Linked DNA regions of Homo sapiens: region 2 is linked to region 1. A link means that fine-mapping ties the variant in region 1 to the plasma level of a protein whose gene starts in the linked region. Region 1 holds a variant in brackets. A gene starts in the other region. All regions are shown on their reverse strands.

Region 1 (14,255 bases):
GCAGCTCAGTTCACCCGGGTGCAGTATTCTGTGTTTGTTCATCCAGTGTTTTTCAAAGACAAAATCTCACATGAGAAAGTGCGACATTCACATTATGCAATTTATTCCCTGATAAAGGCACATCTTGTTTTTTTAAGATTCACTTTATAGCACTGCACAGATACAGTGTATTTTACAAACTGAAGGCTTATGATGTCCCTGCATTGAGCAAGTCTATTGTTGCCATTTTTCCAACAGTGTGCGCACACTTCATGTTTCTGTGTCAGCATTTTTTGACAATGAAGTATTTTTGGTATGTACATAGTTATTTCAGACATAATGCTATTGCACTTAATAGACTACAGTATAGTATAAACATGACTCTTTTTTTCTTTTGTAAAGATAGGGTCCTACTTTGTTGCCCAGGCTGGTCTCAAACTCCTGGCCTCAAGCTAGCCTCTCACCTTGATCCCCACAAAGTGCTGGGATTACGGGTGTGACCCACCAGGCCCAGCTAAATATAACTTTTTTTTTCTTTTCTTTTTTTTTTTTTTTGAGACAGGGTCTTGCTCTATCACCCAGGCTGGAGTGCAGTGGCTCAATCTCACTACAACCTCCTCCTCTCAGGTTCAAGTGATTCTCCTGCCTCAGCTTCCCAAGTAGCTGGGACTACAGGCGTGCGCCACCACACCAGGCTAATTTTTGTATTTTTAGTAGAGACCGGGTTTGGCCTGTTGGCCAGGCTGGTTTTGAACTTCTGACCTCAGGTGATCCACCCGCCTTGGCCTCCCAAAGTGTTGGGATTACAAGCTTGAGCCACCACGCCCAGCCTAAACATAACTTTAAAAAAAAATGTTTATTTTAGGTTCAGGAGTACATGTGCAGGTTTGTTATATAGGTAAACTCGTGTCATGGGGGGTTGTTGTACAGATTATTTCATCACTTATGTACTTAGCCCAGTATCCAATAGTTATTTTTTCTGCTCCTCTCCCTCCTCCCACCCTCCACCCTCAGGTAGGCCCCTGTGTCTGTTATTCCCCTCTTTGTGTCCATGAGTTCTCATCATTTAGCTCCTACTTATAAATGAGAACATGCAGTATTTGGTTTTCTGTTCCTGTGTTAGTTTGCTAAGGATAATAGTCTCCAGCTCCATCTATGTTCCTGCAAAAGACATGATCTTGTTCTTTTTTATGGCTGTATAGTATTCCTTGGTGTATATGTACCATATTTTCTTTATCCTATCTGTCATTGATGGGCATTTAGGTTGATTCCATGACTTTGCTATTGCGAATCATGCTGCTATGAACGTTCACGTGCATGTGTCTTTATGGTAGGATGGTTTATATTCCCCTGGGTATATACCCAGTAATGGGATTGCTGGGTTGAACGGTAGTTCTGCTTTTAGCTCTTTGAGGAATCGCCATACTGCTTTCCACAATGGTTGAACTAATTTAGATTCCCACCAACGGAGTATAAATGTTCCCTTTTCTCTTCAACCTTGCCAGCATCTGTTATTTTTTGACTTTAATGATGGCCATTCTGACGGGTGTGAGATGGTATCTCATTGTGGCTTTGATTTCCATTTCTGTAATGATCAGTGATGTTGAGATTTTTTCTTTATGATCGTTGGCCACATGTATGTCTTTTTTTTTTTTTTTTTTTTTTTTGAGATGGAGTCTCACTTTGTCACCCAGGCTAGAGTGCAGTGGTGGGATCTCGGCTCACTGCAAGCTCTGCCTCCCGGGTTCATGCCATTCTCCTGCCTCAGCCTCCAGAGTAGCTGGGACTACAGGCACCCGCCACCACGCCCGGCTAATTTTTTTGTATTTTTAGTAGAGACGGGGTTTCACTGTGTTAGCCAGGATAGTCTCGATCTCCTGACCTCGTGATCCACCCGCCTTGGCCTCCCAAAGTGCTGGGATTACAGGCATGAGCCACCGCGCCTGGCCTTCTTTTTTTTTTTTTTTTTTTTTTTGAGACAGAGTTTCACACTTGTTGCCCAGACTGGAGAGCAATGACACGATCTTGGTTCACTGCAATCTCCGCCTCCTGGGTTCAGGCAATTCTCCTGCCTCAGCCTCCCAAATAGCTGGGATTACAGGCATGCACCACCATGCCTGGCTAATTTTTGTATTTTTAATAGAGACGGGTTTCTCCATGTTGGTCAGGCTGATCTTGAACTCCCGACCTCAGGTGATCCACCCACCTTGGCCTCTCAAAGTGCTGGGATTACAGGCATGAGCCACCGCGCCCGGCCCATATGTCTTCTTTTGAAAAGTGTCTTTTCATGTTCTTTGCCCACTTTTTAATGGGGTAGTTTGTTTTTGTCTTATAAATGTGTGTGTGTGTGTGTGTGTGTGTGTTTTGAAATGGGCTCTCACTCTGTCCCCCAGGCTTGAATGTAGTGGCACAATCATGGCTCACTGCAACCTCTGCCTCTCAGGTTCAAGCGATTCTCTTGCCTCAGCCTCCTGAGTAGCTGGGATTACAGGTGCATGCCATTGCACCTGGCTAATTTTCGTATTTTTAGTAGAGACAGGGTTTCTCCATGTTACCCAGGCTGGTCTTGAACTCCTCACCTCAGGTGATCTGCCCACCTCAGCTTCCCAAAGTGCTGAAATTACAGGCATGAGCCACCGTGCCCAGCCTGTCTTGTAAATTTGTTTAAGTTCCTTATAGATGCTGGATATTAGACTTTTGTCAGATGTGTAGTTTGCCAATATTTTCTCCCATTCTGTAGGTTGTCTGTTTAGTCTGTTGATAGTTTCTTTTGCTGTGCAGAAGCTCTTAAGTTTAATTAGATCCCATTTGTCAATTTTTGCTTTTGTTGTGATTGCTTTTGCTATCTTTGTCATTAAATCTTTGCTTGCTCCTATGTCCAGGATGGTATTACTTAGGTTTTCTTCCAGAGATTTTACAGCTAAACATAACTTTGATATGCACTGGGAAACCAAAACATTTGTGTAATTTCACTTGATTGCTATATTTGCTTTATTGCACTGGTCTGGAACTGAGTCTGCAATATCTCTGAGGTATGCCTGTATGTCATCCAGGTGGAACAAATCTGCATTTTTAGAACAAGCAGTAGATTATAGGTTACTGTACTTAAGTTCAATGAGAAGACAATAGCATTTTGCGATTTTTCTTTCTACCTTTCCAATGATAATATCTCATTTAGTCTTGCACTGGAATTCTTTCTTGGCTGTCTTTTGCTAGGTTTGTACTATCTTCAATGTTTTCCATAACCAAAGGCAGCAATTTAACTAACTCATGAAAATACGTATTCTGTAAATTTGGCTGATTCTTTCTGCTTTTGCTATTGCCCATTGAACTATTTTCAGATGCTGTCCAAAGTCCTTACTATGGCCTGTGGGGCCAAGGGGTCTATCTCTCACTTACCCTGCTCCACCCACCTGGCTCTCTTGCCAACCTTTGGCAGCTCACTCGTGCTCAAGAACTTTGCACCTGTGGTCCCCAGGACCAAATGCGGCCTCAGCTGTTCCCTTAACCTACCCAGTCGGTTCACTCCCTCACTTCTTAGGACTCTGCCCCAAAGGTATTGAAGAGATTATAGAGAACTTTCCTGATATACCAAAATAAAATTGCACCTCTCACACCCAACCACATCACTCTATAATGTAAGCTTTTTTTATTTTTTTTTTTTTTGAGACAGAGTCTTACTATGTCAGCCAGGCTGGAGTGCGATAGTGTGATCTCGGCTTACTGCAACCTCCGCCTCCCGGGTTCAAGCGATTCTACTGTCTCAGCCTTCAAGTAGCTGGGATTACAGGTGCCCACCACCACGCCTGGCTAATTTTTGCATTTTTTAGTAGAGACTGGGTTTCGCCATGTTGGCCAGGCTGATCTCGAACTCCTGACCTCAGGTGATCTGCCCGCCTTGGCCTCCCAAAGTGCTGGGATTACAGGCGTGAGCCACCGTGCCCAGCCTCCACTCTGTAAGTTCTTACGTGAATTAATTTTTTTCTATGGCACTTTTCTTTATCTCCATCTGACACATTATATAATTGCTTATTCATTCCTTTAGTGTCTGTCTTTCCCCATAAGAATGTAATCTTCAAGAGAACAGTGACCATATTTTGTTCTTAGGTGTGCCTTTAATGTCTAGCACTGTGCCAGGTACATAGTGAGGTCTCAATAAATATTAATTGATGAATAAATGGTCAGTATGGGTTATTAAGACTGATCCAATTAACCTATGGGAGTGCATTGTTAGAATAAGACAATTAACAACAGGTACTGAGAAGCCATAAATATATGCTTTTAAGATTAACCTCCTGGCTGGGCAAGGTGGCTCACACCTGTAACCCCAGCACTTTGGGAGGCCGAGGTGGGAGGATCACCCTGAGGTGAGGAGTTCAAGACCAGCCTGACCAATATGGAGAAACCTGTCTCTACTAAAAATACAAAATTAGCTGAGGGTGGTGGCGCATGTCTGTAATCCCCGCTATTTGGGAGGCTGAGGCAGGAGAATCGCTTGAACCTGGGAGTTCAACCGCGGAACTTGAACCGTGGAGGTTGTGGTGAGCTGAGATTGCGCCATTGCACTTCAGCCTGGCAGCAAGAGCGAAATTCCATCTCAAAACAAACAAACAAAAAGATTAACCTCCTAATACCTTCTTGTAATATTGTCCTGGGATATAGCATAGTTATAAAAATGCTGTTTCAAAAATGATTTTGGAGAGAAAATATTTAGGAGAAAATGGATATCAACTTAAAATTTGATATCAACAGAATTAAAAATTCCATTATTCCAAAATGGAATTAAATAATATGTAGATGCTTTAAAACTCTAAGAATATGAAAGATAATGCCTTTGTTGGTAATAATAGTAATAATTTTGGAATTTAAGGAAATATTACTAAGTAAATTTACTTTTTAAAAGAGTCACGTAAAGAAACCTGGCAGATATCACTCGAATCAATCAATCAACATTAACTGCAGCAGTAACGGGACACAGTGGCATCATGGATCTCCTGATGAGATGCGCTGAGAAGGACACCCCGTGAGTTTTGTAGCATTCCTGCCAGATTGCATAACCCTGATCTAATTATAAGAGAACAATTAGACACACCTGAATTGAGAAATCCACAGAACAACTGGCCTGTTTTAACAAATGTCAATAACATGAACAAGAAAGAAAGGCCAAGAAACTATTCCAATTTAACCAAGAATAAAGAGACAGGACAGGCCAGGTGCAGCGGCTCACGCCTGTAATCCCAGCACTTTGGGAGGCTGAGGCGGGCAGATCACATGGTCAGGAGTTCGAGACCATCCTGGCCAACATGGCGAAACCCCATTTCTACTAAAAATACAAAAATTAGCCAGGCATGGTGGTGCACACCTGTAATCCCAGCTACTTGGGAGGCTGAGGCAGGAGAATCCCTTGAACCTGGGAGGTGGACATGGCAGTGAGCTAAGATCACACCATTGCACTCCAGCCTGGGAGACAGAGCAAGATTCCGTCTCAAAAAAGGAAAAAAGAAAGGAAGGAAGGAAAAAGAAAGAAAGAAAGAAAGAAAAAAAGAAAGAAAGAAAGAAAGAAAGAAAATCACAAAATGCAATGCATGATCTTGGGTTAGAGGATCATTTTTTAAAAATATAACTAAAAAGGTTATTGGAACAACTGGTAAAATTTGAATACAGATTGTATATTTAGACAATAGAATTGTGTTTGCTACGTACGATTAGTACACTGTGGTTATAAAGAGAGTCTTTGTTCTTAGGAGGCCTATGTACAAGTATTTAGGCATGAAGGGTCATGATATCTGCAACTGACTCAAATGATTATGCAAATAACAATAAGAACATACAGAGAGGTTCAAAGAGGTAAAGCAAATATGGCAAAATGTTAACAATTGGTGCATTTGGTTTTCATTTGATTTTTGAGACAGAGTCTCACTCTCATGCCCAGGCTAAAGTGCAGTAGCACAGTCAGAGCTCACTGCAGCCTCAAACTCCTGAGCCCAAGTGATCTCCTGCCTCAGCCTCCCAAGTAGCTGGGACTCAAGGCACATGCCACCACCCGTGGCTAATTAAAGCAAATTTTTTTTTGTTTTTTTTGTAGAGACGGGTACCACTATGTTATTCAAGCTGGCCTTGAACTCCTGACCTCAAGTGATCCTCCTGTCTCTGCCTCCCAAAATGCTGGGAGTATAGGCCTGAACCTCTATGTCCAGTAATTGGTGCATTTGGATGTATTTTTTTTTTTCACCAAATTTTCTGAGGGTTTGAAATCAATTCTTTCTTTTCTTTCTTTCTTTCTTTCTTTTCTTTCTTTCTTTTTCTTTCCTTTCTTTTTTTTTTCTTTCTTTCTTTCTTTTTTTTTTTTTTGACAGAGTCTTGCTGTGTCACCTAGGCTGGAGTGCAGTGGCGCAATCTTGGCTCACTGCAACCTCCGCCTCCCGGGTTCAAGCGATTCTCCTGCCTCAGCCTCCCAAGTAGCTGGGACTACAGGTGCCTGCCAACATGCCTGGCTAATTTTTTTTGTATTTTTTGTAGGGGCGGGATTTCACTACATTGGCCAGGCTGGTCTTGAACTCCTGACCTTGTGATCCGCCCACCTCGGCCTCCCAAAATGCAGGGATTACAGGTGTGAGCCACCGTGCACCACACCTTTTTTTTTTTTTTTTTTTTTTGAGATGGAGTCTTACTCTGTTGCCCAGGCTGTGGTGCAGTGGCACGATCTCGGTTCACTGCAACCTCCGCCTCCTGGGTTCAAGTGATCCTCCTGCCTCAGTCTCCCAAGTAGCTGGGATTACAGATGCATGCCACCACGCCTGACTAATGTTCGTATTTAAGTAAAGACGGGGTTTTGCCATGTTGGCCAGCCTGGTCTCGAACTCCTGACCTCAGGTGATCCGTCCTCCTCGGCCTCCCAAAGTGCTGGGATTACAGGCATCAGCCACCGTGCCAGCCTGAAATTTTTCAAATTGAAAACTTTAAAAATGACCACCACTGCCAAAAACACCAAACAACCTGATTGAAAATGAACAAAGACGTGAATAGACATATCTCCAAACAAGATGTATGAATGGCCAATAAGCCCTTGAAAAGATGCTCAATATCCCCAATCATTAGAGAGATGCAAATCAAAACCACAATAAGATATCACCTCATACCCATTAGATGGCTACTATTAAAAAATATAAAATAGTAAGTGTTGTCAAAGTACGTAGAGAAACTAGAATGCTTGTACACTGGTGGTGGGAATGTAAAATGGTACAGCTGCCACGGAAAACAGTATGGCAGTTCCTCAAAAAATTAAAAATAGAATTACCGCATGATCTAGCAATTTCCCTTCTGGGTATACACCCAAAAGAATTGTGAACAGGGTCTTGAAGAAATATTTGTCCATACATGTTTAAAGCGGCATTATTCACAATAGCCAAACATGAAAGCAACACATATGTCCACACACAGATTAACGGATAAGCAAAATGAGGCACTACATACATACAATTATTTATTTATTTTTTCTTTTTTGAGACAGGATCTCACTCTGTTACCCAGGCTGGAGTGCAGTGGCATGATCACAGCTCACTGCAGCCTTGACCTTCCAGGCTCAAGCGATCCTCCCACCTCATCCTCCCCAGTAGCTGAGACTACAGGTGCACACCACCATGCCTGGCTAATTTTTGTATTTTGTAAATTTTGTATTTTTGTATTTTTTGTAGAGATGGGGTTTCACCATGTTGCCCAGGCTGGTCTCAAACTCCTAGGCTCCACCTGCCTTGGCCTGCCAAAATGCTGAGATTACAGATGTGAGCCACAACACCCAGCCTATGCAATGAAATATTATTCAACCTAAAAAAGGGAGGAAATTCTGACACATGCTACAATATGGATGAACCTTGAGGACATTATGCAAAGTGAAATAAGCCAGTCACAAAAAGACAAATAGTGTCTTATTCCATTAATATAACATCTAGAGTAGTTAAATTCTTAGAGATGGAAAGTGGAATGGTGGTCGCCAGAGGCTGAGGGAGGGAGGGATGGGAAGTATTGTTTAATGGGTACAGAGTTTCAGTTTTGTGAGATGAAAAGAGTTCTAGAGATGGATGATGGTGATGGTTGCAAAACAGTATGAATGTACTACCATTTGATACATTGAATGTAATACGATTGAACTCTACACTTAAAAATGGTTAAGATGGGAGATATTATGTATGTGTAGTTTACCAAATAAAATTCTTTTTCAGTAACTGAAGAGAGAAAAATATTTGCAACCATTACAATAACAATTGATTCTAGTAAGAGTCATTAATGGGGTTAAAATTAGAGGGTAAAAGTTTAATGAAAGAGAATATTTATGTAGTTTCCAATTATCTGTTTCCAATATATTTATTAATTAGAAAAGAAAACCTAGTAATTTTACAGTGGAGAAATTAGGAGGTATAAATGTACCAGGTGATCAAAGTAAACACTATCAGCATTAGGACAAATGGACATGTTCCTCCTGATATGTTGCACTAGGAAGGACACAATATCACTTCTCTGTTACTGCTGCCAAAATTTATGCAAAATCTGATCTAATTATGAAGGAAACACCAGACAAACCCAAACTGAGGGACAGCCTACAAAATAACTGGTCTGTCCTCTTAAAAAATGTCAAGGGCCAGGCTCAATGGCTTGTCCCTGTAGTCCAGCTACTAGAGAGGCTATGGTGAGAGGATCATTTGAGTCCAGGAGTTTGAGGCTATAGCATGCTGTGATCACATCTGTGAATAGCCACTGCACTCCAGCCTCGGCATAGCTAGATCTCATCTCTAAAAAAAAAGTTAAGGTCATGAAAGATCAGGAATGACTGAGGAACTCTTTCAAGTTGAAGAAGACTGAAAGTGCATGACAACTGAATGCAGTTTGTAATCTGGTATTTTCTTTTGCTATTAAAAGACATTATATTGACATCTGGTGAACTCTGAATAAGAGCTGTCAATTAGATTATAGTATGATATCAATGTTAATTTCCTTATTTTGGCAATTGTGTTATGGCTAGGTGAGAGAATGTTCTAGTTTTAAAGAAGCATATACTTAAGCATTCAGAGGTAAAGAGGTATCATGTTTGCAACTTACCCTCAATGGTCCAGATAAAAATTTATGTATATATATATGTATCGATGTGTCTGTGTGTGTGTGCATGCATGTGTGAGTGTGTGGAGAGAGAGACAGACAGAGAGAGAGAAAGACAGAGAGAAAGCAAACATGGCAAAATGTTAATATTAAGGAAAATCTGAGTATATGGGATATGGGAATATAAGGGTATATGGAATCGTTTTGTATTATTTTTGCAATTTTTATGTAAGGTTGAAAATTACATAAATCAAGATTAAAAATTAAAATAACAACAAAAGGCAAGTGGAACCCCAGCAGTGAATGCTGGAGGTCTGATGATAATGAACCAGGAAAACGTTCATGGGAAAACAGGATGTAGAACTATAGGAATTAAACTTTACCCTGAAAAGCTTGGCATCTTCCCAAACATAGGTGGACATAATTGTGTTTTCCCAAGGTACTTTTTATCCTAATCGCCTTTGAAAACAGAATAAAGTGAACACCAAATCCTGCTTCACTCTCATCCTTTGTCAGAGTGTTTTTTTGTTTTGTTTTGTTTTGTTTTGTTTTTTGAGACAGAGTCTCGCTCTGTCGCCCAGGTTGGAGTTCAGTGGCGCGATCTAGGCTCACTGCAAGCTCCGCCTCCCGGGTTCATGCCATTCTCCTGCCTCAGCCTCCCGAGTAGCTGGGACTACAGGCGCCCGCCACCACGCCTGGCTAATTTTTTGTATTTTTTTAGTAGAGGCGGGGTTTCACCGTGTTAGCCAGGATGATCTCGATCACATGACCTCGTGATCCGCCCGCCTCGGCCTCCCAAAGTGCTGGGATTACAGGCTTGAGCCACCGCCCCCGGCCAAGGGTGTCATTTTTATCTGAGATCACAATTGAGTGTGGGTTGTTTAAAATACTCATGAATTGGCCGGGCTCGGTGGCTCACGACTGTAATTGCAGCACTTTGGGAGGCCGAGGTGGGCGGATCACGAGGTCAGGATATCAAGACCATCCTGGCTAACATGGTGAAACCCCGTCTCTACTAAAAATACAAAAAAAAAAAAAAAAAAAAAAAAAAAAAATTGGCCGGGCGTGGTGGCGGGCGCCTGTAGTCCCAGCTACTCGGTAGGCTGAGGCAGGAGAATGGCGTGAACCCAGGAGGCGGAGTTTGCAGTGAGCCGAGATCGCGCCAGTGCACTCCACGCTGGGCAACAGAGCGAGACTCCGTCTCAAATAAAATTAAAAAAAAAATTCATGAATTAGGCGAATTCCCTGGAATTGGAACACTAATACATTCACATCTATATGACATCTGGAAAATAAAAGAAAGCTCCATGGCCATACATGGTCAGTTACCAATCCTCACAGGAGAGTGAGATTAGAACAAATGCCTCCTTCAGAGCAATAGCCAATTGAGCTATTTTCCCACTCAGCTGCCTGGACTTTTGTCTGAATCGTCAGAGAGAAGAGTTACCTTGGGGCCGGGTGTGGTGGCTCACAACTGTAATCCCAGCACTTTGGGAGGCTGAGGCAGGAGGATCACCTGAGGTCAGGACTTCGAGACCAGCCTGGCCAACATGATGAAATCCCATCTCTACTAGAAATACAAAAATTAGTCGGGCGTGGTGGCATGCCTGTAATCCCAGCTACTCAGGAGACTGAGGCAGGAGAATCACCTGAAACTGGGAGGTGGAGGTGGCAGTGAGCCGAGATCACGCCACCGCACTCCAGCCTGGGTGACTGAGGGAGACTCCATCTCAAAAATCAAACACACAAAAAAAGAAAAGTTACCGTGGCTTCTTATAGACACACAGCCTGAGACCTGCTTCTTAAATTTTGTGTTTCTGCCTCATCAGGATGACAGCCATCAAGAAAAGAGTATAAATCTCAAAAGAGCAAGGTTTCATTTTTTTTTAAAGCTGGTATATTACAGAATTATGGGTACCATTGGTACTGCAGATATCAGATGATTCTTAAACATATCAGTGAGTTCTTAAATGGTTAAGAACTGTGCACATTATTAATGTGTATGCAGCATTGGGCTAGGCTCTGCGAAGTCAGGAAAACAAATAAAGCACATGGGCCTTGCCCCCAATGAGCTCTTATCCCCGAAAAACATACGAAATGACTAGAGAAAAAGACCGAATTATTATATACACTTAGAAAATGTCCAGAGCACAATATAAAAGTAAGTATTCGATGATGAATGTGTTTGGAACTACTAATTCTAAAGGAGTGACAGGGACACACTGTCCTAGTAGGAGACACAGCATCAATATTACGTCCTACAAGGACTGGGCAATGTGAGGCGAGTGCAGGGCTATAAATAGTAAATGACAGAGAATTTACCGTATATACTGGACTTACTCAGGCCAAGAGATACTGATGAAATAAAGGAGCACAAGCATGCACAGATAGATCGTGAGCATTATGTATAAACAATGGAGCAAATAGATCTTGTGGGTGGAAATAAAGGGAGAAACCTTTCCTTCCATAGATGGGCAGGATGGCGCGGCAGAAAGAATAATAGCTTTGGTGTCGGACAAACTGGATTCAAATCCTAGCTCTTTCACTACCTGTGTAAAACTGGGCAAGTTATCTAATCATTGCAAACCTTGTTTTCACTACATAGGGCTACTAGCTTGTGCAGTTATTAGTATTAAATTGAATGCTACATTAAGCATCTAGCAGAAGCAGCATTCAACAAGCGATATCTCTTGTTGGTTTGTGTATTTCTTAAAGCATCGCACTGTTATTGTTGTGTTTGTCTCCCTGATAGATTGTGAGCTTCTCAAAGAAAGGACTGTGCCTTAACGGTCTTGGCATTTTGAATTTCTAGTATAGAATCTGGCTCATGGTAGATTCTCAGTAAATATTGACATAATAAGAATCACGAAAACTGTACATTTAGGTAACAACGATGGTTTGATATTAACGGAATACTTACTTTGTGCCCAGCTAGGAGCATTTAATGAATCACCTTATCTAATCCTCACGACAATCCTTCGATTTTAACTATGAACATCCCATACAAGTGACAAGGATATTGAAGCTTAGAAACCTGCCCGTGCTTATACAGCCAGTAAATGGAGAGCCTTGACCTCAGCCAGGTTGGATTCAGGCTGTGCTGAACCAGCAAAGTAGAGAACTGCTCTCCTCCTGTAGTTGCTGAGGAAAGTCCCATGGATGGACCAATAGGAGTTTCAGAAGCTGCCTGAGTACCAAAAAGGGAGAGAATTCGTGAGAAGGGTAAGAGCATTCCAGGCACAGACTACAGCTTCAGAGACAGCTCTGATGTGTGACAGAGGCTGGGGTGGGGTTTTTTGAAGGAGGAGTGTTGAAGGCACAGGCCAAAAAAGGCCTACTGAGCTTGGGGTTTCCCTCAA[C/T]CACAGGGCATGGGGAAGTCGTGGGGCCCGTGTCACGTGCGGGTGAAGATAGAGAAGAATCTCCATACAGAGATCCTGTAGCAGCTGAAACAGGCAGTGCTGGGGCCCAGAAGCCCAGAAATAGTCAGAAACACAGATGGCATAGAGTAGAGTCAGAAGTGCTTCTGGGGAGCAGGCTGGGGGCTCACAGTGCTGTATTGTTGGGAGGGAACTGAAGGAAAAGCACCATATTTGACAACAGACTGCAGGCTGCAGTAAAAGGTAGTAAACAGAGGGCACTTAATGCAGTGGTTATAAGTGGGGTCCTTGCAGCTGGAACACCTAGGGTCACTTACCGGCTCCCAGCTGCATGACCTTAGCAACATGACTTAACCTCTCTGGGCCTCTATGCCCCTTCTCTGTAAAACAGGGAAGGTCTGTTTCCTAGGGTTACTGTGAGTGCAAAATGAATGAATACTTGTAGAACACATGCTGTCTCTGATGGGTAATAAATGTTATTTCTGATGGCGAATGAATTCAAAAGAAAAAGACAAGTTCTCATGAGTAAATCAAAAGTGTTTTGCTTAGAAGGCATGTTTCCTTTGCTTTTTCTTCCTGTCTTTGCTGGTTCAGAACTCATGCCCCCTAAATTTTATACAGAATTTGCTGTTTTCTGAAAAATTATTATAAACTAGGTTCAAGGTCGTTACTTTTAGCTGCTGACAGGAAACGGGGACGTCCTGTTGACCGCTGATAGGTCTGACATCAAACATATCCAACTCCAGCTGTCCCAGATCCTCTTCCCTGACGTCAAAAGGCAGTACTGGTTTTCCAGTCCTCCAAGTGCAAACCCTTGAACTCAATTTTAACTTCGTTTCTTCTCCTCTTCAATGCCAATCTTATAATCAGGATTTGCTCCTTCTTTCATTTCAATGTTTTAGACTTGGTCCTCTAATAACTTACCTGTCTCTACTTTCACCCTAGTGCCAAAGTAACGATCAACCGATTATTCAGGATACCACTTAAATCGCTTATCTCCCTTTGTCAAGAACTTTCAATAGTTTCTTCTCCGAGTGACAGAGCGAATTCAAATTCCTAAATTTGTGATTCAAGGCTGTACTTCAACCGGTCCCTCCCCACATCCTCTGCTGGGGGATGGTGCCCTGAATAAACCCAGCTCGGTCCTCCACCTCCCTTCTCTGCCGCCTGATGACATCCCATTCCTTCCAGAGCACCCGGGTTGATTCCCGCCGTCCCACCTGCAGCTTTCCCCGCCAGTTTTTCCAGCCCTAATGTCTTTGATGACTTGGGGCCCCCATCTGACACTGGCTTGTGTTGTACACTGGTGACTTTGCCTCGGAGGGTGAGACCCCGTTTCCTGGCGAACCTCCACAATAGGGAGCACAGGATCAGGCACTCAAAAAACGCGCAATGAATGGGTGGATGAGCCCATGAACGTGTTGGTGGCTCTGTCCCTTGGCTGATTCCCAGCTCCCACCCCGTCTTCCTACCAGGGTCAAGCGAATTGGACCCCGGACGCGGCCGAGCGGCAATGGGGTGGGCGCCGTTCCTGAATCCGGAGCGTTTCCACGTCGCCGGCTCTCCACGACCCAACCCTAATCAGAGGACCACGGTGCGGGTCCCGCGCTCTGCTCCCCCTCCCGGAGGCGCCGTTCGCTGGGAGTCGGGCTGGTTTCGAGAATCGCAGGCACCGGCGCCCAAGGCGGGAGGTTCGGCTTCGCCCCTCGCCCTCCCCCTCGCGGCCATTGGGCTGCCCCGCGGCGCGCCCGCTGGACGGGGCGGGGCCCTCCGCTCTCCCCTCCGCTCCCCTCCCCTATTTCCCGGGGT
Region 2 (15,742 bases), not on the chromosome of region 1:
ATGAGGTGTTTGGTTTTTTGTCCTTGCGATAGTTTGCTGAGAATGACCGTTTCCAGCTTCATCCATGTCCCTACAAAGGACATGAACTCATCCTTTTTTATGGCTGCATAGTATTCCATGGTGTATATGTGCCACATTTTCTTAATCCAGTCTATCATTGTTGGACATTTGGGTTGGTTCCAAGTCTTTGCTATTGTGAATAGTGCCGCAATAAACTTACGTGTGCATGTGTCTTTATAGCAGCATGATTTATAATACTTTGGGTATATACCCAGTAATGGGATGGCTGGGTCAAATGGTATTTCTAGTTCTAGATCCCTGAGGAATCGCCACACTGACATCCACAATGGTTGAACTAGTTTACAGTCCCAGCAACAGTGTAAAAGTGTTCCTATTTCTCCACATCCTCTCCAGCACCTGTTGTTTCCTGACTTTTTAATGATTGCCATTCTAACTGGTGTGAGATGGTATCTCATTGTGGTTTTGATTTGCATTTCTCTGATGGCCAGTGATGGTGAGCATTTTAGTCCTCCTTGGGAAGAAACCGTCTTTAGAAAAATAGTGTGATAGGCACCTAGAAAGCAATTGAGACTCAGACCTCTAAGAGAGTAGAGGGCCTCATGCATAAAGTGAGGGGTGGAATATGTTTGTTATCCCCATAGATAGAGGAGCCAATGAGAGAAGAGTGGAGATTACAGGGAAGAAGGGAAGAGAGGTCAGCAAGATGGTGGGAAGCTGGCACTAGAGAAGGTGGGAGTCTATGGAGCGCTCAGTGAAGAGGTGGTCAGAATATCCCAATAAAATAGTAACATCCACCCTTCCAGTCACAACTTGGTTATTTTTCTGGTTGTAAATATGACTTTAGTCACTCCTTTACCCCCAAACTTTAGGTTCACATTTACTGGGTGTGTGGTGAAATTCAAAAAAGGGGCTGTTTTTCTTTTGCACCAACCTAGAGCCACACAGACACAACATACTAGGAATGTGGCAGTTCTATGGGTTGACCAGGCCAGGAGAATATAAACATCCTTAGGAATTCCCAGGCACCCTGAGGTGGGCTCTGAACTTCCACAAGCTGGAGAAAAGCAATTTTATCTAGAATTTTGATAGACCAGGATTCACAGCAGGCATTTGGGTTATGCTTCGTCTGGAACCCAATCTGACTTGGGTCAGTTATTCTGTCCCCTCAAATGTTCCTGTGGTTGTCACCCCACTTTTCAGTATTTCCCTGGTTAGAGTCAGGTAAGAATCAAATTGAAGCATTTTAGCCAGAGCATAGCCTATGCGTCTGTCTCAAGAGGGCAATACAGCTATTTGGCATGATGTGAGCTTAATTCTAGCCTGGGGAAGTACAACGTGGAGAAACTTCTGCAATAAAGCTTGCTTGTTGACTTGTTGATGGCAAAGCTTTGTTTGTGGGTGTTGTCTGAGAAGGAGGTTTCAGGCCTTTATCGCCTATTATGATGCTGTTCTGAGTACTCTATGAAAGCTGGTACCTAGGTAAGTGGGTGGGACTTGGGGGTTGTGGATGGAAAAGAGACTGCCTAACTGGTGCTGGTCTACTTCTGTGATAATGATGTTAACAAGGAAATTCTGTTGCTGGCTTGCGTCAGATGTGTTATCTGGATTTAATAAATAAAGAGAGGATAAATGTTGACAGAGTTTTTATTCTTCTCGTCAGTACAGAGGTGTAACAGGAGTTTACCTCTATGTGTCCTTATTCTACTTACAACCATTATTTCTCCTACCAGAAAATTGGGGATGGGAATGCATGTGTTGGTGGGGGCTGGGGGTTCACCAGAGCATAAGGTAACAGCACGGGATGCAGAGACACAAGATCTGAATTCTAAGTCTGGCTCTGACACTAACGCTGCTTGTGACCTTGGTTAAGCCTTTCAACTTTAATACTAAATAGTTGGAACAAATGATCACTAGCTCTGCCCACCCCCCTCCACCCACCCCCGCCGCCCTTTGCTCTAACATTTTTTTATTCTGATTTTCTCCTGGCATGGATGACTCTTCAGTACATATTTGTCTAGTGGTTTTGGCATTATGACTGTTCACTAATCGCCTTGATAAATTCTGAGGAAATTATCTCTACAATCAGAGGTAAAAATGAGGGAAACTTTTTTGGGAGTCAAAGGAAATGTTGAAGCACTGAAAATAGCATAGAATGATGGAATTTGGATGGGAGATGGTATTGTGAGGACAGGGCTTTGCAGTCCCAAACCAGGATTCTGCCTGATGTTTGCAGATCAGCCTCGCTGTTACTGCAGTATATGGTATCCGCCATTGGAGAGTGCCCGCACCCAGGATGTACGTAAAGAAGTAGAGGTTAAAACAGGAGTGACTGCCCAGTGTTCATGGACAAAATGACATGTGTACATTGAGAGGAAAAGTGTAGCTTCCTTCTAAATAGATTCCCTCCTAGGCCAAGACAAGAAGGAATGCCATGTCCTCAAATACCTGCTCTTCTCCATGGGACTGGGTTGGAGGGGACTGAGGGAGGAAGAGTCAATGACAAGTCGATGATTCTGAAATTATGTGCATCACAGCTGAGGCATGTGGGTGACGTATTTCATACCATGGGCATCAGAAGTGACTTCCTGCTACATAGACAGCATGTCATCTCTAAGAGCTGAAAGTGGAATGTGAAGGCTGTGGACGGCTCACAGGCCATTGGTGGTCAGCGCTCCCCGAGGATAGATCAATAAGGGTCAAGAAAGAAGTGTGGATGACACCTCAACGAACCATACCTCAAATCTGCACTGCCCCCCCCCTCACCCGAGATGCTGTCTCTCCCTCTTCTAGGAGATGGCAGAGGGGGTAGTGCTAAGAGTAGAATCCAGAAAAGGGTCCTACTTGGAGGGTGACTTGGATTTCTGGCAGAAGCTGGGGCATCACTGGAGTCATAACAAGTGCTGGAAGGGAGCTGTCAACTGTGTCCAGTTGGCTCAAAAAATGGAAGCTTTGCAATCTTCCAGGGCAAAACAACATCAATGTCTGAGAGAAGCATACACAAAGAAGGTGTAATAACACTGTCTATTGGTGGAATGGGTGCAGTAGCAGTAAGTGCAAACAAAATCTGAGTGGCTGCAGCTAAGCACAGATATGACCAATTCCATTAGTGGAGGCTCTGCCAAAATATACACACCCAAGATAAGAATAAGACCATTTGTATACTATGAAACTGCCCGATTATTTGCCAGTTCCTTCCTTGTATAAGGACAGATCAGTGCCAAAGGAGAATTTTCTTGGCCTCAATATAGAAATACCAAAAGAGAGCTGACCTTGGGTCAAAAGGGTTACCAACGTCTGGTTATGGCTTAAAAAATAAAAGAAAATAAAAAAAAGCAGGGCTTACCCTGCCAAGATATGAAGGTAGGAGAATTTCACAAGTTGAACTATTATGTACTTTAGCTATGCTGGCCAGGGCTGTGGCGTTAATAATTTTGCTTGTGTGTTACACTTTCAAATATTCCTCTGCAATGAGTCAGTTAAGCAGGCAACAGAGTTTTGCTGTTGTCACTCAGGCTGGAATGCAATGGCGCAATCTTGGCTCACAGCAACCTCTGCCTCTCAGGTTCAAGCAATTCTCCTTCCTCAGCCTCCTGAGTAGCTGGGATTACAGGCACCTGCCAACACGCCCTGCTAATTTTTGTATTTTTTAGTAGAGACAGGGTTTCGCCATGTTGGCCAGCTGGTTTCGAACTCCTGACCTCAAGTAATCCACCTGTCTTGGCCTCCCAAAGTGCTGGGATTACAGGCATGAGCCACTGCACTCGACTTAGGAGCTTACCTTCTAGTCCAGGGATGCAAGGTGGAGACTCCAGCAAAATTTAAAAGTGTATTATAGTGTACCAGAGATGATATGGAAAACTAAAGCAAGTAGGGGGGATGTGGAGTGATGAAATGTAAGATATGGCTGTCAATGAAGGCCTCACTAAGAAAGCAATGTTAGGGCAAAAGTGAGAATGAGGTGATGGAGTGAGTCTTGAGGAAATCTGTGCAAAGAGCATCCCTGGCAGGCAGAGAGAACAGCAAGTGTGAAGACCCTGAAATGCAAGACTGCCTGGTCTGCAAGGAGGCCAGTGTGCCTGGAGCAACATGAATGATGGGGAGAGAAGGTGGTGCAGATCATGAAGGTCTCACTGGCTGTTGAAAAGACCTGTGCTCTGACTACGGGAGATGAGTTGAGCACGTGTGGACTTTATATAACTTGTATTTTATAAGGACCATTTTAACTGCAGTCTTCAGAACAGACTATAAGTGACAAGAGGAGATGCACAGAGACAGATAAGACACTGGTGATTATCCAGTCAAGAGATAGTGATGGCTTGGATGAGAATGATAGCAGCAGAAGGGGAAGAAGTGCCAGACTATGCATATATTTTGAAAATAGAGCTAACAAGATTTGATGACAAATTAAATGTAAAGTGTGCAAGGTAGGACTCAAGGATAACTCTTAGGGTTTTGATCTGGGTAACTGGAAGGATGGAGATGCCCTTTGCTAATATGGGAGAGACTGATGGTATAGCTAGTTTGGGAGGGATGATCAGGAGTTTAGTTTGGGACATGTTCTGTTTGAGGGCCTATTGAACAACTGAAAGGAGATATCAAGTAAGCAGTTGAATACGTGGGTCAGGAATTCAGGTGAGAGGTCTATGATAGAGATAGACATTTGGAAGTCATCAGCACAAAGATTTAAGCCAAAACTAGTAGAGATCACCTGGGAAATAAGTGTCAACAGAGAAGGGTTTCAAAGACTGAGCTATGAGACACTCTTACGTTAAGAGGAAGAACCAGCAATGGAAAATGAAATGCAGAGTTTAATTTTGCTTGCTTTTATTGATAACCCATTATATACCAGCACTGTAATACGAGCTGGGCATAACATAAATAAGACTAGTGCCTGCCTTCAAGGTGCTTACAGTCAATGCATTAGATGGATTGTTTGAATGCAGTGTGGTAACTTCAAAAAGACATGCATCTGGCAGTGTGGGATCAGGGAGAAGAAATACTTGGCTCAGGCTGGGAGAAATAGGAGGGTCCTTGGAAGAAATAACACCTGGAACTTAAAAAGAGACTAAACGTTACCTGTGTGAAGAAAGGAGAAGGGCAGAGTGAAAGAAGGGCAGAAGTGAAACAGCTGGGAACATGCTGGAAAATATGTATTTATTTGGTGCTGAAATTTCTTCCTGAGAAAGTAGGAGCTTTGTCTCTAATGAGACTGTACCTTACAGCCATGAGAGACATTTCATATTAACAAAGTGATAACATGACTGGTAAATTATTCTCTCTACGTTTGCAGTTGGGTTCAAGAAATTTGGGTTCAGCCACCAACACCAACGTTTTAGAATTCAAGAAAACGGCTGCTGTGACAGTCAATTCCAGCCGTAGCTACGACAGGGCAGGGTCTCTCCATCCACAGTTCATTCTGGGTTGCCGCTGAGGCCATATGGTGGTTGCATTTTTTATTTGCTTTTGTTTTCATTGTAATGTGTGTGCAGCAAGCACATAGTGTTCCTAACAACAAGCAGGGAACTGTGGGCGAGAAGAATTGCTCCTCAGGGAAGGAAAGGGACAGCCACTTTGACAACGCCCATTCCATGTTAGACAGCCTGCTGCACCCAACAACCAAAATACGAGCAGGAAAAAAGGCAGCATTTGCCCAGGAACTGCATCCCTCAGCAGGCTCTTTTTAAGTTAGGGTGTATCCAATCTAACGTGTAGACTACAGTTGAGAATCATTATCTAGAAGTGGAATAATAACATTTTGGAGTTCATCCTCTTCTTGCCCAAATACTCTGGTCTCAAGCCTAAGTCCTGCTGGTGGTTGCTGACTTGCTACAGGCTGATAGCATGACAAGAAGGGAAGGCAGCTGGAGGGGAGAGAGGATGAACTTGGAGGCATTGGAGCCCAGGGCTCCAGAGAACAACAAACAGTTACTAAACTCTTCCTCTTCAGTTTCAGCAGAGTCTATAAACTCAGTACTATTATTATCCCACTTTCACACACAATAAAACTGAATCTCAGGGCCAGGAGCAGTGGCTCACGCCTGTAATCCCAGCACTTTGGGAGGCCGAGGCTGGGGATTACCTGAGGTCAGGAGTTTGAGACCAGCCTGGCCAACATGGAGAGACCCTGTCTCTATTAAAAATACAAAAATTAGCCAGATGTGCTGGTAGGCACCTACAGTCCCAGCTACTGGGAAAGCTGAGGCAGGAGAATCGCTTGAACCCAGGAGGCAGAGGTTGCAGTGAGCCAAGATCGCGCCACTGGACTCTAGCCTGGGAGACAGAGCGAGACTCCGTCTAAAAACAAAACAACACTGAATCTCAATAGGGTCAAGTAATGTGTACCCGGCCACATATAATTGGTGGGACTAAAGCATCAGTTCCTACAGTCTGACTCCAGAGTCCTTTCTTTGACACTATGAGGAATTCCCTGAAGATACTCTTGGGACTACCTGCATGGGACTCACCCGAAGCACTTATTTCCAATGCCGATTCCAAGCCAGGCCTCATTCATCAAACTTTCTGTGGGCAGAGCTCCAGAGTAGAGAGTCAAACAGCATTCCCCATCCGTGTTCTGACCTTGGGAAGGGTTCTCCTTGGGCCTCAGTTTCCTCTTTTGTAAAATGAGGATCAGTGAGGTCACTTCCAGTTCAAAAATGAGCTGACTATAATTCATCTTTAAACCCAGCAACCTGGATGCAGCCTGCCAACCAGGCCTTTACCATATATCTCCTTATCTTTAAATATCCATGCTATTGAGCGGTATTTTAAGTACCACTAAATTTATAGTTTGATACACAAATACTCACAGAGTTTCCCTGGAAACCTAGGAGAACTGGACGTCCCTCCAATATGGCATTTTTGAGGTACAGCCCTCCCGCGGGGGAGGACTAAGCAACTTCTCTAGGTCTCTTCTCTTCTGCGGATTCTTTTTTTCTCTGCTTTCTTGGCACTGCTAAAGACAAAGAATTCATCGATAGTCTTAATTTTCCTTCCTCTCTGAAGTTACAATCTAATTTAGTGGTCATCTTTTAAAAGTTGAAACCAGACATCCTGTACTTCTCATTAGCTCTAACCTATGTTTGGTTTGCTCTGGTTTTGCTTTTCTGATTTTTTTCTTTGGAGAAAGAAAAGTGAGAACTAGGGGCATTGGCCAAACAAGTCTGTCCACTTGGTGGAGAGGTTTCCAGATAAGAAGGATCTGAAGGACTTCCCATGGGCGTGAGGGAAATCGCACACGCCATCCGGGGAAGAGGACCAGGAAATCACTTTTTGTTTTTAAAACAGCAGCGCGGCTCTCAGGGATGACTCTGTGAGACTGGGAGGATCATAGCTGGGGGAGGCTGAGCGTGGGAGCGGTGCTGCCAGTCCTGCCTGAAAACGCGAAATGAGTCTTGCTTGGTTCTCCCTCCACTGGGCGTGAGAGCCCCTGCCCAGGAGGCCCAGGACAAATGGCCCCATAGTGGAAACTGGGAAGCTTTTAGGCATCTGATCAGAGCGGGAGCCAGCCGGGGGACCACAGTGCTGGACAGGTAACAGACATTTCTCCTACTGCGGTCTGTCATTCTGTCTCCCTTTGTAGCAAGACCTCAGGGGCTCCTAAGTCACTTCTCTTAAGACATCTTCCACTTACGATCCTCTTTGCCTGCTTTTCTTTTGCGTAGGTGTGATATGTATGTTGGGAAAGTTAAGTATGTCCAGTCAAGAGCATTGTGCATACTGTTGGTCCAGTTAATGAGACTATATTAAAGGAGATGGCGTATCAAGCAACTAGCTGGGATCCTTTAGGATTTTCTTAATAACAGACTTTTTTTTTTTCAAACAAGTTCTCTCGTCCTTAAACCAGAAAATACTATAAAAACCAGTGCATTCATGAGCTACTGAGCTGCTGCTCTTGCCAAGAGCATTTCAGGGCCAGTCGGCCATTGCTGTGGTCAGGCTGAGGAAGGAAGAGGCTGCATCCCAGTAGCAGGAGGAGGGAGCCCTGGCTATTCGCTCAGCTTCGGGAGAGTCCTTCCAAAGGACAAGGGATGACCTTAGAAATGTAAAATGTAGGCTGCAGCCTCCCACACAGGACTGAGGGGAAAGGAGTTTGTAGTCAGCATTAGGAAGGAGGTCAGTAAAAGTGCTGGGGCTTCAGGGCCAGGCCGACTTGTTTTGAAAGGAGCAACTCTATGATGTGCGGTTTGCTTAAACCATGTTTTCTCATATTTCAGAAAGCCAGGTCATGCCACTTCACTACAGCATTTTTTCTTTCATAAAGGGCTAACGTAGTTGGTTTTTCAATGTAGGTTATTTTTGAATTACACAGATAATACTTGACTATATTCTTATCGTAAAAGAATATCTCTAAATAGATTTTATTTTTATTTTTATTTTTTTGAGATGGAGTCTTGCTCTGTCGCCCAGGTTGGAGTGCAGTGGCACGATCTTGGTTCACTACAACCTCTGCCTCCCGGGTTCAAACGATCCTCCTGCCTCAACCTCCCAAGCAGCTGGGATTACAGGCACCCGCCACCACACCCTGCTAATTTTTGTATTTTTAGTAGAGATGGGGTTTCACCATGTTAGCCAGGTTGGTCTCGAACTCCTGACCTCAGGTGATCCACCTGCCTCGGCCTCCCAAAATGCTGGAATTACGGGTGTCAGCCATCGCAGCCAGCTTTCTGTTAACAGTTTTCAATTGCACCCCCAATATACACTCTCTTCCCCCCCCCCAAATATTATTCTATCAATTGTTTTCTGTGTTACCAGTTAAAGGCTTTATTTTCTGTTCTTCTGAGCTCTATAGGACAAGCCGGGGCACAGGAGTACAATAAATTCTCATTGTCAAGTTCTTGTGATTTATCCTAAACTCCTTCCTCTCAGTGAAAGATAAAATGATACATGGGAAACATGAATAGCTCTTTTAACTCTTAGAAAAGTATAAAGAGTTTTACTCATTTTTACCATTACTATTTTGTGTTGGTTTTGGCTTTGACAATTAATAATATTAGTAACAACCTCCTAAGGATTAAATTCTAGATTTGCCAATTAGTGGTTTGGGCTTTTCCCTTGAAGGGCATCAGAAGTTTCTTATTCTAGAAATGAAAGGGGAGAAGATAAAATAACAGGAAATTAACTAGATAGATAATAGCTAGATTGATAGATAAAGTGGCCCAGAGAACGTAGAGTGAAGACAGGAGAGATTGCCCTTTTATTCAGTGGATAATAAATGCATTTAACAGATCGGTTCATTTTCCATCTCTTTTAGTCTTCTGTAAAAAGGTGGCCTTCCCCTCCCCACCAACAATGTTAAGAGACAAGCAAATAAGGAAAACATCACTATGAACAAGTTAATACAGCTTATGGAGAGAGCCTTTGGGAAAAAGGTATAAATAAGCAGTATCAAACCCAAGAATAATACGAACACTTTCAATAGCTATTTCATATTTTCTTGTTCTTTACAGGGTTTCTCCACCCCAAACTATAGAGCCACTAGGCCTTGCTGATTTTGGACGTTCTGTAAAATTTGCCTGCCTTTGTCCCTTCTCCAGATCTCTGGCTACTCCGATGAATCATTTCTTCCAAGTGCACAGTGTTAGCCACATGAGAGACCTCCACTGAGGCCCTGTAGACTAACACTGCCTCACTTACTGAGTGTGGGTTTATTGACTATGATATAGTAACCTCACTTACTGCGCTATGGGGTACTTGGGGGCATTTTGGAGCAGTTAAAAATATCCCATGGGGTCCCACCTCCTCACGTTAATGAGGCTAATCTGTCTCCTCCTAAATATTATGCATTCAATCTCTTGTATTTATATGCAACTTTTTAGTTATCAAAAGACTTTTATGCCTCTTCTTTCACCATGTCACAGGTAAAGCAGGTAACTTATTCTCATCTAATGGAATACAAAAACAGGAAGTTCAGAGGTTAATTTATTTGCCTCAATGGCACAATGAATTTTTTTGGAGGACTGAGATGAGAAGAAACTCAGATTACTGTCTTTGCAGCCCCATTTTTTTTATGTCAGTACTATGAGGATAAAAGTCATGTGGAATAGAGAATTGATGCGATTGGCTGGATTCTGTCAGCTTTGTAGCCACATGGTAGATGTTTGCTGGGAATCTAAAGTTAGACTAAACTATTGCTTTGTCCAGATATTAGCAAGTTCTATCACCTGCTGTCCATCGGCGTCACCCTAGGAACTTAACAAAGAGAAAACAATGTCTAGACACTTTGCCAGAGAAACTGAATCACTATCTCTGAGGATGGGGCCAGGGCATGGTTAGATTTTTTGTTTGTTTGTTGTTTTTAATCTCCAAAGTGATTCTATAATGCAGCTGGGGTTGAGATTCACTGAGTCTTGGCTGTGTAAGATACAGTGGCTAAACTGAGAAGCAGAAGCAATGGCTGTTTATGAAGCCAAGAAATTAGGACCAAAAGTGTCAGCAGCAGTGCAGATCATTAGAATTCTGGCTGCTGCTGTCTTTCGGAGGAACAGACACATCTGCACATCAGAATGAAGAGGAGATTTCCGACACCTCCAACAATGGCATTGACTTTCCAGTTTTAATTGGAACAACCCCACTGACTTCACTGTAGATATGTTGGCTCCCTAAGACTTGCAGATTTTACAAAGGCAGATTAAATGTTCTAGATAAACAGGATGTGCTCTTCTAATGCCAGATGACTATCAGATCATACTTTTTATTCAAGGTCACTTTGCCATGTTGTGTCCCAATCCCAAGAGAAAGGGGAAAAAAAGAAATACTGATTATCCTTTGCATGAGCTGCCACTTTCTGGGTTGAACTAAATATGAATAGATGATAAGTCATGGATGTTTTTTAATTATAACGTTTCCCTACAGCCTTTTCCCCACTGACATTTCTTGATATAGTTCAAGTTAGTATCTCTCGTCAGTGCAATGTTTGTCTCCTTGATAGAGAGGACTACCGGGCCTGTTCAGTATTTATCTCAGTTTCCCCAGGACCTACGAGTTTCTGCACAGAGTAGGTGCTCTAATAAGGATGGTTGAGTTAAATATACATATTAGCTAAGGGCACACCATGATTCACAAGTTACTTACCAGCTCAACATTTCAAATCACATGGTGTGACTCTGGTCATGATGGTTAAAATAACTGGAATCTTCCCGGCTTCCTAAAAGGTAATCGCCAACGTGAAATCTTTAAAATTACAGCCTAGTAGAATCACCTACTCTGGAGTGACTTGCTAAGTGCTGTGGAATTGCAAAGGCAAAGAACCTTTCTCTTAATCAGCTCAGACTCTTAGTGGAAAGCAAGTTACAGGCATTGAGAATTTTAATAACAAACAATTTTTTTGATTGAATTTGTTTTAATTATTATACTTGAAGTTCTGGGGTACATGTGCACAAGGTGCAGGTTTGTTACATAGGTATACATGTGCCATGTTTGTTTGCTGTGCCCATCAATTCCTCATTTACATTAGGTATTTCTAAGAGAAAACCAAACACTGCATGTTCTCACTCATAAGTGGGAGTTGAACAATGAGAACACATGGACACAGGGTGGGGAGCATCACACACAGGGGCCTGTGGGGGGCGGGTGAGGGTTAGGGGAGGGATAGCATTAGGAGAAATAACAAACAATATTTATCGAGTATTTGCTATGTGCCAGGGACCATACTCAGTGTTTTATAAACATGATTGTTAACCCATTTAGTTGTTCCAATAATCCTATGCCTCAAATAAAATCATAATCCCCATTTTATAGATGGGGGATCCAGAAAAGTTAAGTAAATCACTTGAGACAAAAAGCTAGCAAATAGAGGCACGTTAAGATTCCATCTCAGGCAGTCTGACTTCAGAGTCCATATGCCTAATTACCGTGCTATGCCTGAAAAACACACAGTGCTGAAAAGTGATCCACATGGCAGGACCAGATGAGTAGCTGAGGAGAGAAATGCGGTTCATGCAGTGGAAAGATATATCTCTGGGGAAGACAAAATAAGAGACAATATGCCATAAAGGTCAGAGTTCAGACTTTGGAGACAAACTTGGCCACTTGCCAAGTGTGTTTGTTTAGCCAAGGCTCAGTTTCTTCATCTGTAAAATGAAGATGATGATACTTCTCATAAACAGGATTATAAAGATTAAATGAGTCTAGTGCATGTATAGTGCTTAACCTAATGCTTGCCATATGGCAAGTGTCTGACACACAGCAAGTGCTTGATAAATTATAGTAATTGTTGTTACCAAATGAATAAGCAAGACCTGAAATAATGAGTAAAGCTCAGAAAGGAGAAATAGAGCATTTCAGTTACCAAGAATAGCGCGAGAAGAAGCTGCAAGGTAGCAATGCATTCCACTAATATTGTCTCTTAATATTTATGACAAAAGAAGGTACAATAAAAGCTGGGAGTGGGTCAGTTTGCTCTATACTCAAGTGTTATGGGAGAAAAATTGACAGAGCTCATTTTACATTAGGTCGTGGTGATCATGCTTGCCTGGTGAATTGGCTTAAATATTCTCTGGGCATTTGCAAACATTTAAAGTATTTAAATATGATCTAGCCACAATTTAGGAAGAATAGTGCTCTGGGCAAATAAATTCCCTGCTGTTGTGTTGGATTATTGGTCAGGGAAGAAAGGAGCGAGGGGCCCATTCAGGAGATTATTGAGACCATCTAGATGTAAGATGATAATGTCCCAACCAATGTAGTGGCCCAATGTCCAAAAAAGTGTGGTGAGATGACAATATCCAAACCGATGAGGGGCTCTGAGCACATCAGCAGCAGGTAACAGGACTTAGTACCCGGTCGAATTGCTGCTTCTGCTCCTGCACCACTTCTTGTGTCCAAGGACACCTGTGAAGCTGTGAGCCTAGGAAACAATGAAGCCAGCAGTTGGCACATCTGGGAAGGGATGGGTTAGGAGAGAGCAGTGGGACAGGAGACAAGTTCAGTTTTCGATGATCTGAATTTACACTCAAGTGGAAAGAGTATAGTTGAAAAGCCATGCCTAATATGTAGCAAAGAGAGGAAATAGGCATGCAGAGGAAAGAGATATCTTTGGGGACAAGAAAAGAGGCAATATGCCATAAAGGTCAGAGGCTGGAAATACAGTTCTGGGAATTCTCACATAAACTGACAATTAAAACTATGGAAGTGGATGAGCTTACTATAAGAAGGTGTCAAGAGAGAAGAGCTGTAGACCCAGGAGAGGTATTTGGCAGGGCGCACAGTGAGGCAGCTGCAGGATGATGAGGATGGGAGCATAGAAGGAGAAAAGGCATAAGCTCGGGAGCCTTGAGAACCAGGAAAGGGAAAGGGAAAGGGAGCGCTGCAGAGGAGGAGGCCATGCACAAATGGAGCAGGTACCCACCGCAAGCCAGGGAGAGTGAGGACTGGGGCAAATGTTGTGGGTTTGCCTCTACAGAATACTTTTCATAATGAGGTGAGGACTAAAGTCAAACTGTCCAGAGTAAGGAAATCTTGAACTAGCAAGGACTTTTCAGGGTACTGTATTTCTTGGGGTTGGGGGTGGGGGGATAAAGTAATATTTTTTTTTTCATTCTGAATAGCACACACATTATATGGTTAAAATCTAACAAAATCCCTGAAGAAGGAAATGAAGATTTAGAAGAGAAGTCATTGGCTAAGGACAGCAAAGCCATTTCTCAGAGAGATGGAATGGATGGGGGCCATAAAGGGAGGAAGTGCAGAAGGCTAAGGTGGCCCTGCCAATTACTGTAATGTTGGAATATTTTAAGCCACATTGCAAATAACTGCTTCCTCCAGCCCCTGGAGTGCCTCCCCACCTCTTCTTTAGTCATCCAGTCCCTTTCCTGGGATCCTACACAGACTTCCCTACAATCCAGCAATGACACTGCTAAGGTCTAGCCCAGCAGGAGACCCCCAGGCCCTGCTCCTGCACAGTGGACAGAGATTGTTCTGATTGGTCCATTATTATTATTATTATTATTATTATTAAAATAGTCAAGTATTATTTTGGAGCTTACCTAACACATGGTAGAACCACAGAACTGTGAAGCTTGAGAACAACCTAATGTAAAATGAGCTTTGCCAAGTTTTCTCACATAACATTTGAGTATAGAACAAACTGGGCCGGGTGCAGTGGCTCACGTCTATAATCCCAGCACTTTGGGAGGCCGAGATGGGCGGATCACTTGAGGTCAGGAGTTCAAGACCAGCCTGGCCAATATGGTGAAACCCCATCTCTACTAAAAATACAAAAATCAGCCGGGCATGGTGGCATGTTCCTGTAGTCTCAGCTACTTGGGAGGCTGAGGCAGGAGAATCGCTTGAACCCCAGAGTCAGAGGTTGCAGTGAGCCAAGATCATGCCATTGCACTCCAGCCAGGGTGTCTCAGTGAGATTCCGTCTCAAAAAAAACAAACAAACAAAAAAAATAAAAACAAACAACAAAAACCTGACCCATTCCACAGGGCTTCCCTCCGTCTGCAATTGGAATGCACCCCTGGGCATTGTTTTGCCATGGCTTAGGGAAACCCCTCCACATGGTGAATTAATGCAAGACGGACTAGATAAGAGCAGTTAGGAACTCAATGTTTTCACATAGATGGCAATCTTTTGCTTAAAGCCTAAGACCCACAGTGACTTAACAACAAGAAAAGAGGGATAAAAGGTTATCAACGCCGCCCACATGTGCAGTGTGTTTTGGAAAACTTGATCCTATTGTGTACAAACAAATGTTCCCCTGTAATCTGATAGTACTGAACTGCCCTGACACAATGCTGCTGCAGGGCCTGATTTCAAGGCAATGGAAAATTAAATAGGAAAAAAAATGTCTTCAAGGCAGTTCTTTAATTGTTATTGTGTCCCATGTTTGTGTTAAATAAATATTTAGCTTATATTTTTGCTTGTGCAGGAGATGAATCATCTAATCAAATAAGGTCAGCAAAGATAAGTCTTACCACCTCTGCAGCTGAAAATACAGATTTATGAAGGCAGGCTCTTAAAGTTACACTTAAGGGTTTTTTAATCTGTACTTCTACAGTTCAGGGAGTAGGTTGCTGATGGCATTCTATCCTTATTGCAACTCTGTATCTCATGGAGATGAGCAGAGTAATAATCATAGTAAAATTTGCAATGATAGTCCTCCTGAAAGTTGGCATTGCCATCTATCATCCACCATTAAAAGTAACTCTATTCTTTAGTAGTAGAATGCTTGTATGTGCTCATCTATTTTCAGGCTCATTTAGTCTCTATTTTGATAAGTATATGTTTGCAAAAGGGCTGCCTGATCGTAGTCTGTATCCCAGAACACAAGGTTTGGGAGACATTAGGGTATATGCCGTTGGCTGTTTTCAAAGGTCACAATAGTGTGTCTAGTTAGCCAGATGCAGGCCAAGGTTTAGTAAGAGGTATGATTTCCCTTGATTTTGTACTAATACAGTTAGTTCCTTTCTTAAAGAGAAAGCTATGCGTATAACATCACCTACTGCGTGGACGTGAAAGCTAAGCAGCTTACATGTGGGAAGAACCTTCACCTTCTACTTCAATTTACAAACAAATTTCGTGAGTTTCATGTACTCACCATCTCCAAGTCCTCACTCCCCAAACACTCTATAACTCTTCCCAGTACAGTTTCTATCCAACCATCCCAATGGGATTTCCTTTGCTGAGAGCATACCATGTCTCCAAGTCCAATGAGCAATATCAGTCTCCTCCTTAATGGACTTCTTGGCACCACTGGACATAGTTGACCACCCCCTTC

Which allele goes with the higher level. Alleles are on the strand shown, and positions count from the first base shown. The strength of an association depends on the size of the effect and on how common the allele is.
In carriers of allele T in region 1, the plasma level of the protein whose gene starts at base 7,325 in region 2 tends to be lower than with C alone (moderate association).

Evidence for each region. PIP is the chance, under the fine-mapping model, that this variant and not a neighbour inherited with it causes the effect. The UK Biobank Pharma Proteomics Project read protein levels with antibody pairs (Olink). The fine-mapping took linkage between variants from a reference panel, not from the people measured, so its PIPs are less certain.
Region 2: ADGRF5 starts here. The variant in region 1 is fine-mapped to the plasma level of the ADGRF5 protein (UK Biobank, PIP above 0.99).

The regions. Positions count from the first base shown.
Region 1 is chr1:236,065,191-236,079,445 of GRCh38, reverse strand. No RefSeq gene overlaps it. Among named protein-coding and RNA genes, the nearest start is that of NID1, 7.2 kb to the right of the region's middle. RefSeq lists a silencer at 14,096-14,255. The variant C/T (reference allele first, on the strand shown) is at 12,429.
Region 2 is chr6:46,913,521-46,929,262 of GRCh38, reverse strand. It overlaps ADGRF5 (adhesion G protein-coupled receptor F5), which reads left to right and starts at 7,325. Exons shown (of 21, transcript NM_001098518.2): 1 at 7,325-7,550. LOC105375080 (a long non-coding RNA gene) reads right to left here and starts at 7,184. Exons shown (of 3, transcript XR_001744147.2): 1 at 6,828-7,184. RefSeq lists an enhancer at 1,688-2,887.